3 separate regions of the Homo sapiens genome follow, and all the other regions are reported to be linked to region 2. Evidence: microRNA targets listed by miRTarBase, many of them from high-throughput screens and not tested one by one. Region 2 holds a microRNA gene; each other region holds the end of a gene's coding sequence.

Region 1 (3,225 bases), not on the chromosome of region 2:
CCTTTTCTGTTCCCTCCAGCATGCTGGAAGCCTGTGCAATTTCACTAGGAATGTGCATCTCTCCTCTCTGAGTTTTCCCCTAAGCCTGTCATCCCTCTCAGTCTCTCAGCCTCTGGCACACGATATGTGGCCCTCTCTGCCTGTGTCTGGGACTCCCTCAGAGATACTTCCACAAAGTCTCTGTCTCCCTGAGTCTTACCTTCATGTTATGAACGTTTCTCATCAGTCTCTGTGCCTCTATTTACTCTTGACATAGAGGGAATGGGCCCGAAATACAGGGAGATACATATGGAGAGATGGTGACGGTGACTAGTACACAATACGCCAGGTCAAATGGTTCACATATGATGAGACCATCACAGAAACAGAGGCATGAAGAATGATACACTAACAGTAATGAACAGAAGCTGCAGCATCCAGTGATAGACAGGGACCCTAAAAATGGGACAGGGATGCAGCATTGTGAGAGAAGACCAGAGAACACATGGACAGAATGCTGGCAAAGACTAAGTCCATGACACCAGGGGATCTGGGGCCCTAGAAAATGACTCAATACAGTCACATTTTATTGAGGCCACTGCATGCCAGGCTTATTTGGGTGCTGGCCCCCAGGAAAATCAGATTATTCTTGCTCTCCAGGGTTCAAGCTGCTGGGGAGACATCCATGTAAACATACATAAGGACAATGTGGGGCAGAGACAGCACGGTGACTGCCTCCTGGGGGCACCAGTCACATTCATGTAAGAGACATCAGTCAGGGCCTACTGAGTCTTGTGTGTTGTAGATACTGAGAGTAAGACATGGCCCCTGCTCTCAGGAGTTTATGGTATCCTTGGAAAAGGCAGCTCTACAAGGAGCAAATAAGTAAAACAAGGTGGCAGGAGTTGTAAGAGAGGTATCTAGGAGGTGCTCTGGAAGCAGAGAGGGCAAGCTGAAGTCTGCTCCCGGAGAGCAGGGAGGTTTCTTTGGGCAACATTTGAAACACCTTAGATGAAAAAGGAGGGCCAGGTGCGGTGGCTCACGCCTGTAATCCCAGCACTTTGGGAGGCCGAGGCGGGTGGATCACGAGGTCAGGAGATCGAGACCATCCTGGCTAACATGGTGAAACTCCATCTCTACTAAAAATACAAAAAAAAAAAAAAACTAGCTGGGCGTGGTGGCAGGCGCCTGTAGTCCCAGCTACTTGGGAGGCTGAGGCAGGAGAATGGCATGAACCCGGGAGGCAGAGCTTGCAGTGAGCCGAGATCGCGCCACTGCACTCCAGCCTGGGCGACAGAGCGAGACTCCATCTCAAAAAAAAAAAAAGAAAAGAAAAGAAAAAGAAAAAGAAGAGGAGGGTTCCAGGCACAGGTACAAAGGCACATAAGTGGGAAAATGTATGGCTCCTTCAGGGACCACAGTAGTTCCGTGTGGCTGGTGTATGGAAGGTGGAGCCATGGTATGAGATGAGGCCATTTTCACTGCACGCACAGAAAAATGACAGTATTCATACATGCATATGAGGATAACTGGAGAGGTTGCTCGGGGCCCAGAGCAGCCTGCATCTCAGCATACTTATACCCTGTTCAGGAAGCTGTGCTGTAGAAGATGGGTTGGAGAGCTTTCCACCTTGGAGTGACACAGTCAGATCTAAGTAATATCAAGAGTCCCCTGGAGAGTGATACAGGGGCAGAGAATAAAGGCAGGAAGTGGTCAGGAAGGAGACCCCGGCTATAATCCAGGCAAGAGGCAATGAGGGCTCACATAAGGTAGCAGTGGTGGAAAAGGAGGTGAATTACAGATAAGCTTTAGGTTAAAACAATAGCGCTGGTGACTGGTGGGATGTGGAAGGAAAAGGAGAGACAGGAACATGCTGGGCAGGTGTCAAGCAGCACCACTGATTACGACAGGAAACCATGAGAGAGGCAGAGTGTAGAAAAGGCATCGTGGAAGAGGCAGTCTCAAAAGTCAGCCTTGCAGTTAGGCACAAAATAGTCTGGAGTGGAAATAGTAGGTGCCAAGGCACAGAGGTGGGCATGGCAGGTGTCCGTTCTGGGCTAAGCAGCAGAAAAGCAGGCAAGAAGAACCACATGAGAACAAGCTACAGTTGGCCCGCCCAGAGCGTCTTGGGACGCTGAGTTCTGAGAGACATGCGCCTTCATTTGCCCTGGCCCTCAGAACCAGTCTAAATCCTCAGTTCGGCTGCCTTCTCTCTGGGACAGCCCTGAGTGGGAAATAGAGGGTAGCAGTGCAGGGCCCTTCTGGAAGCTTCTCCAGCTGGCCTGAATCACCTTGTGCTCATCAGGGTTCCTCAAATGCAGAGTGGTTCCTAGACAGCCCGAGTCTGCCCTCAGGCACCTATCATTTTGACAACTCATCAATCACCCACCCTGTCTGTGGCTCTTCAGGAACTCAGCGTTTCTCTTAGACCTCGAGCCTCCGAGAAGACGCTGTGCTACGCCCCCAGGGGCGACTTCCGGTCATTGCAGCACCGTGATGTGGATCCGCAAGTGAACCATCAGGGCTGAGCTACGACTGAAGGCCTTCCCACAGTCGCTGCACTTATAAGGCTTCTCTCCCGTGTGGATCCTCTGGTGCTCAATGAGGGAGGAGCTCTGTGCAAAGGCCTTCGGACAAACCTTACACTGATATGGCTTCTCTCCAGAGTGGATTCTCAGATGTCGGATCAGGGCTGAGCAGTCGCTGAAGGCTCGGCCACACGCGTCACACTTGTAGGGCTTCTCCCCGGTGTGGATGCGCTGGTGTTGAGTCAGGTGCGTGCTCTGGCTGAAGGCTTTCCCACACGCGTCACACTCGTAGGGCCGCTCCCCCGTGTGCACCCGCTGGTGCTGGGTGAGGTGAGTGCTGCGGCTGAAGGTTTTACCACATTCCCCACATTTGTAGGGTTTCTCTCCAGTATGAATCCTTTGGTGCTGAGTCAGGTGGGTGACTCGGCTGAAGGCCTTCCCACATTCCTTACACTCATGGGGCTTCGCCCCTGTGTGGACAACCTGGTGCTGGGCGAGGTGAGTGCTCCGGCTGAAGGCTTTCCCACACTCGCTGCAGGCATATGGGGTCTTCCGAGAATGGGTCTTCTGGTGTGCCTCGAGCGCCGAAGCACTCTGGAACATCTTCCTACACTCGCGACACTTGGAGGACCTCTTCCCTGAGTAGGTGTATGGAGGCTCTGTCCCATAAGCATCCACCAGATCAAATTTGTCTTCTGAAGGAGGCTTCTCTTGGGAG
Region 2 (3,253 bases):
ACTCTACGAAACATTCCACAGTAAACCACTCCCTCTCAAATTTATATGTACATTCCCAGCTTCCTCCCTGAACTTCTGACTCTCATGTCCAATTCGTATACTTGATACCTCTACTTGAATGTTTAACTGTGTCAGAAGTTAACCTGTAAAAACGTAACTCTTTATTTGACTACCTTAAATCTCTTCCTCTCCTCCTCCTTATTCTCATTTCAGTAAACAGTCTCATCATCCAGCCCGTTGCTCAAACTTAAAAATTAAGAAACCCTTAATTCTTTCCTTCCTCTTGTTTCTCAAAACCATCCCTGAGCAAGTACAAAAGGTATCTCAAATCTGTCTACTTCCTTCCAACTCCACTGCCTCCACCATAAAGCCATCATTCTCTCTTGGGTGAATTATTGCAATAACTGGTCTCCTTGCTTTCTTCTACAAGCATCTCTCTACCCAGCAAACAGGGAGATATGTTTAAATGTAATCCCCTACTTAGAATCCATCAGTGACATCCACTGCATTTAGAATAAAATCGGATCTCCTTATCCCTACGTGATCTAACCCCAGTCTGCATCTCCAACCTAACCTTGTCCTGTTTTCCCCTCACTCTTTACAGTCAAGTCACACCAACCCCCTTTCTGTTTCTTGAACACTCTGAGGTCTTCAAGGCTCCCAGGCCTATATCCCTGATGCTCCTCTACCTAGAATGCTCTTCCTACACCTCTTTCCATAGCTGGCTCCTTCTCATCCTTCAAGTCTCAGTCTGAATGTCATGTCCTTGGAGAGGCCTTTCCTCACTAGTCTACCTAAAGCACCCTCTTCCTTTACTCTCTACCATAACCTACTTATTTTCTTCATGATGCCCACTAAGAGTTTGATATTCATTTAGTTTATTGTTTGTCTCCCCATCACCAAAACGTAAGCTTTATCAGGGTGGGGTCCTATCTTGTATTTCTAGCACAAATATTAATAGGTACTCATTTATTTGTTGAATAAATTAACCAGACCTCTACATAAAGATGTACATACAATAACGTTTATTGTACCTTTTTTCATTTTGTAGGCTGGGGATAAATGAATAGAATAATAGTTTCTATCCAATCATTTTCCCTAGCCAGTTTCAATGTTCCAAAGTTTAATTAACAGAGCAGGGAAGCTACCCTGAACTGAACTTAACACTTTGGAATTTTGCAGCATTTTTATGCTAGCAAAAAAGTAGACACACTGAAATGTTTACCAATAGGTTTTTATTACAGAGTATTCCATGTAAGAGCTATGCAGTAAATAGAAAGATGGCCTGTGTGTCAGATATCCTTAGCCTCTTTAGAGTCACTCTCCTTCCTCTTCTCCTTGCTCTTTCTCTCCCAGTGTCCAGTTTGCATAGAATGAGTAGAACTTGACCAAGTGAACAAACACAGAGGAGGCATTCTAGCCCACATGCACATAGATCTAGGGATAAAAGTGTATGGTGTGCTGGAGAAACAATAAGTGTGTCCTCCTCTGCTCCCACTACAGCTGGTCCCCTTGTCTGTTACAATTACTATGTTGTAGTATTGTAGCCATTCTCATGTGTTTCTTCTAACCAGGCTCCTAGACTCACACTTTCAGACAACAGAGAAGCATGTCTTTACATCTCTATACCCTCAGTACCTAACACAGTAAGCTCTCTTATAGTGGCTGCAAGAAGAAATCTGCTTTTATCTATATTTTACTAGTTTAAAGGTTACTTTTTTTTTTAAGCGATGGGGTCTCGCTATATTGCCCAGGTTGGTCTTGAACTCTTGGGCTCAAGAGATCCTCCTACCTCAGCCTTCTGAGTAGCTGAGATTACAGGTGCAAGCCACCACACTTGACCAAGGTTACATTTTTAAGACTGATTTATATGGTCATTATATAGACCAAATTTGTCTGTAGAAAAATTAGTCAAACAGTGAGTGACTTAAAACTGTACAATACTGTGGCTGAGGGCATAATTAAATCTTTATTAAAACTGCTACCATTTCTTTTTGTTTTTGTTTTGCTTTCTTGAGACAGAGTCTCGCTCTGTCACCCAGGCTGGAGTGCAGTGGCGTGATCTTGGCTCACTGCAACCTCCACCTCCCGGGTTCAGGCAATTCTCCTGCCTCAGCCTCCTAAGTAGCTGGGAATACAGGTGTGCACCACCACACCTGGCTAATTTTTGTATTTTTAGTAGAGACGGGGTTTCACTATGTGGGTCGGGCTAATCTTGAACTTCTGGCCTCATGTGATCCACCCACCTCGGCCTCCCAAAGTGCTGGGATTACAGGTGTTAGCCATCATGCCCAGTTTTAAAGATATATGCCTATGATGATCTGAATCTGAACTAACTTCCAGATGTCTCACTAAAGGCAATGCATTTTTTCACATAAGAATAAATTTTGGCCGGGTGCAGTGGCTCACGCCTGTAATCTCAGCACTTTGGGAGGCTGAGGCGGGTGAGGTCAGGAGTTCAAGACCAACCCAGCCAACATGATGAAATCCCGTCTCTATTAAAAATACAAAAATCAGCCAGGCGGGGTGGCGCATGCTTGTAATCTCAGCTACTTGGGAGGCTGAGGTGGGAGGATCACTTGATCCTGGAAGGTGGAGGTTGCAGTGAGCTGAGATCATGCCACTGCACTCCTGCCTGGGTGACAGAGCAAAGCTCCATCTTAAAAAATAATAATAATAAATAAAGAATAAATGCCCATTTCTAATAAATGAGATACTTCAATAAAAAGTGTAAGAAGTAAATTCCAAGAGAATTTGAATTAGTAATACTTACCAACACTAGCATGATCAATAATAGTGTCAATATCTTGTAGACCCCATTTCTTATAAGCTAATGGTGGTGGTTGTATGTTCTCATTGCCTGATGCTGCAGCTACCAAAGATAAAATAAGACAATCCAAACTTATTATGGATAAAATGAAGTTTTACAAAAAAACATTAAAACCATACTAATTTGTTATTCTAAAATTTCAGCTAATAATGACACAAAGTAATGAAAACAAGGCATAAGGTGAGATTTATTCACACCAAGACAATGCACGTAAAATGCAAACATTTAAAAGACTAAGTTGGCTGTCACAAAAGATTCTGGAACACTCCAGTAATTAAAGAAGACTATTAAAAATCCTAGACTACTACTAAAAATCAAAGGGAATTCAGGCCGGGCATGGTGGCTCATGCCTGTAATCCCAGCACTTTGGGAGGCCGAGGCAGGCAGGTCGCTTGAGGTCAGGAGTTTGAGATCAGCCTGGCC
Region 3 (3,252 bases), not on the chromosome of region 2:
ATCTAATTAAAGATGCTATTAAACTAAAAAGGTTATCCACCAGAAATGAGGCCACGGCCTCTCATGCCCAGAACCTGGAGGTGCGGCAAAGCAAGGAGGCCAACCGCGGAAACGCCGCCAACACCCCACTCCCTGAGCTGGCACCCTACAGCTACAAGACACAGAAGGACAAAACAGCCAGGAAGCCACGAACTAGGCATCCCCCGAGGCACGCAATGCCCGCTTATCACTGCACATCCACAACAGAATTGAGGCCAGAGGACTAACTTCCCTGGACCACAGATGCTCTGTCCCAATCTCCAGAAAAGACGAATCAACAGAAAGATCCCAGGCAACGTCAGAGGGATTCAGGAAAGCTTTTTCTAAGAAACTGATCTCATCTTAATTACAGCATGCTCAAATGCACAAAGGAAGCCACAGGCTCATACTTAGACGATCACCGCTTCTGTTGGAAAGGCAGAAGATGCAGGAAGTCTCTGTTTGGATCTTTTGAAAATTCCAGCCTTTAACAGTTGCCTATGTTTGCACATAAATATTCATTTAGGCCAGAAGAAAATGTATCCATTGTTTTTCTGCAACAAATGACACCATTTTCCCTTAATGTGGCAAGCAAATGCGTATCACCTGTCTAGTTACTAGAGAAGCAGAATCCTCTAGAACTCTTGTCAGCTTTATTACAGGAGAGGAGTCAGCCCGTCCTCCTCCCTAACCCATCTCCCCACTGGATGGCAATGGCTGCAGTTGGCTGCTCCCAGGAGTCTACGCTGGAGAACCAAGTGGTAGGTGCTGTCTAAAGAGCCTACGAAAGCAGACTCTGACCTCCAAAACTTCACCCCACTGAGTTGTCAGGGGCTAACAGGTACCCTGACAGGCAGTTCACAAACCCTCCTGTCCCTGGCACAGTGCACACAGCTCAGTGCTGTTGGGACTTGGCATCTCTGGTCTAGCCTGTGGGAGTATGAGAAAGCTAGCAGTGGCCTGAACTCGGCCTGGTATCCTAACCCTCTAGAGACGCAGCAAAGCCAGATGCCCAGAGGGAGATCTCCTTGTCTTCTCTGGCTCAATGAGATGCTAATTTTGGAAGCTGGTATACGTAGCACAAAACACAAGCTAGTGTAAAGATGCTGTAGTTCAAACACTGCTGTCTCTCTCCTAATCAAGTGGCATGTTTCTTTTTTCACCCCTAAGAGGTTTGGGACTGTTTGCTTAAGATCTCATGTCAATGTCTGAAGGAGGGAAGCCAGCTCAGGCAAGAGCTCTAAGAAAAACTCGTGAGACAAAAGAAGGAAGCTCTTGCCTGGAAGTTCACTGTCCTCTCCACGTCCTCCCAGTGGTGCAGTACACGGCCTGCCTGTGGTCTACAGTGGCTGTGGTGGGCTGGCAAGACTGCAGGACGGAGGGCGTCCACATGCTTGTCCACACCAAAGGCCTTTCCCTCCTCTTTTCACCTTCTCCATTGTGGATGGGGAGAGAAGCAGTGGAGGGGCCAGGGCTGGCCTTGAGGGCTGCAGCGTGCCACACATGTGGGGGAAGAGGAATGGTGGGGAGGAGGGAGAGTAGGTCCAAGGGGGTTAGGAAAGCACAATCAATCCCGGCTGCTGCGGGGGATGAAATGAGGCAGGAAGGGAGAGATGGCGGCACAGGCATGGCCTGCCCAACACCTCTGTAGCAGCTCCAGGCCACACTGGATGTGGATGGACGGTGACTCATGTGCCTGGAACTCCTGAGGATGAGAAGGCAAAGGGGCCCTTGTTAGCTCTGTCCTGGGGAAAGACTGGATGTTGGGCCGTCTGCAGTAGGAACGCTGGCCACCCAAGAGGGCGCAAGGAGGGAGACCACCACGAAGGCATATATTTGGTGAGGTCTGACCACATCCAGATGTCTGGGCCCTCACCTGGGTGTCCCAAATGGGAAGGAGACACAGAAGTCTCAAGGCAAAGGTATGCAAGGGACTGAACACGTATGTCAGGCACGCCCACACCAATGCCCGTGAGAGACACTTTCCCTGCAAAGGCAGGTTTGTCTCAAGTGCCAAACAGTCACACATCGAGTTTGAGAACTTATCAGGAAAGTCTTCGCTGTAATCATATTAGCGCCTAAGGGTCACCCCAGGAGGGAGAAATGACACCTTAGATCGCCTGGAAGCTTGCAAAGGGACACAGGAAGGAAACCAACTACAGAGGGGACTTTGTTCTTCCTCTTCCATGTCTCCTAATTCTTAAAACACAAGAAAAACATTTTCAACCAGCTTAGCAGGGTCCCATGTAAAGTCCACACAACCTGCATAGTACAGGACTCTTCCTGCCCCCACTCCCTGTTAAGAGTACGAACAAAACCTCTAGGGAGGGGAGGCACCAGCCCAGGGCCCCACGACTCCGCAGCAGCCCTGTGATCGGTATCCATGCTCTTGCTGCCTTGGGATGTGACACCACCAGGCATGAGCCCAGGCCACACCCAACTGTCCTGCCCGTTACAGTCCACAGAGGGCACAGCTGATGCATAGCACAGGTTTGGCAGAAAGCAAGCAGCAGGGGCTGGGGCCTCCCTGCAGAGAGGGAGATCACAGCTCCTAGTGCACAGCAACTACACCAAGGCACACATACTCCCTTGTCTCAGAAGGAAATGCCACCGGAATGTCCAACACAACAATCGAGGCAGAGCACAGGCTGAAATGGGATCATTATGCAGACCCTAACATGGGCCCAGGCGTGGTGAAGAACGGCTCTAGTACCACAGTGATTTCTAACGCTGGCCCTTGCCAAGAACTCATCCTAGTCTCCTTGGACGCCGTTGCCTGCTGCTCGTGGGGAAGCAGCTCTGTGACCACGTTCCTGCCCGTTGCACAGTCTTGGGTGCGGAGATGCCTCTGTTCAGACCATCTTCTGGGGCTGCTGGGCTTATCTATTTTTCTCTAGCTCGAAGAGGGCTTCATCCGCCACCAGGACGTGTGGTCACTGGGACAGGTCACTGACAGCGGGGCCGCCTCCACCACCATCAAACAGAGCTTCTCGGCGGCCAGGCTCAGCGATGGACAGCTCTTGGGCCAGGTCATTGAACCGAGAAATGTAATCAATGCTGTTTTCGTTCATCATGCACACCAGCTGGGAATCCACAACCTGCAGGAAGAGGAGACAGGAAGAACAAGTCACCGCGACCTGCTGGCCCTTCAGTGGAGGGCGGGTCCTGAAACAGGACGAGAAGCTCCTATCGACTCCCGCTGCAGGAAGCTAAGCTAGGGATGGCAGCCCAGGG

What was found. The annotated mature microRNA hsa-miR-664a-5p reads ACUGGCUAGGGAAAAUGAUUGGAU and lies in region 2 at 1,084-1,107, opposite strand. An mRNA with a match to its seed (bases 2 to 7 or 8) in the 3' UTR can be bound and repressed. Matches are read on the target gene's strand: a 7mer-m8 pairs with bases 2 to 8, a 7mer-A1 pairs with bases 2 to 7 and ends in A, and an 8mer does both.
Region 1: miRTarBase lists ZSCAN22 as a target of hsa-miR-664a-5p. Seed matches in the 3' UTR shown: 7mer-m8 at 1,090-1,096.
Region 3: miRTarBase lists CRAMP1 as a target of hsa-miR-664a-5p. Seed matches in the 3' UTR shown: 7mer-A1 at 1,055-1,061.

Annotation. Positions count from the first base shown.
Region 1 is chr19:58,338,561-58,341,785 of GRCh38, reverse strand. It overlaps ZSCAN22 (zinc finger and SCAN domain containing 22), which reads right to left. Exons shown (of 3, transcript NM_181846.3): 3 at 1-3,225. The coding sequence ends at 2,460. Among named protein-coding and RNA genes, the nearest start is that of MIR6806, 5.5 kb to the right of the region's middle. RefSeq lists an enhancer at 2,774-3,225.
Region 2 is chr1:220,199,503-220,202,755 of GRCh38, forward strand. It overlaps MIR664A (microRNA 664a), which reads right to left and starts at 1,117; the gene lies at 1,036-1,117. It overlaps RAB3GAP2 (RAB3 GTPase activating non-catalytic protein subunit 2), which reads right to left. Exons shown (of 35, transcript NM_012414.4): 9 at 2,774-2,872. It overlaps SNORA36B (small nucleolar RNA, H/ACA box 36B), which reads right to left and starts at 1,174; the gene lies at 1,044-1,174.
Region 3 is chr16:1,673,745-1,676,996 of GRCh38, reverse strand. CRAMP1 (cramped chromatin regulator 1) reads right to left here. Exons shown (of 21, transcript NM_020825.4): 21 at 1-3,116. The coding sequence ends at 2,952. Among named protein-coding and RNA genes, the nearest start is that of JPT2, 2.9 kb to the left of the region's middle.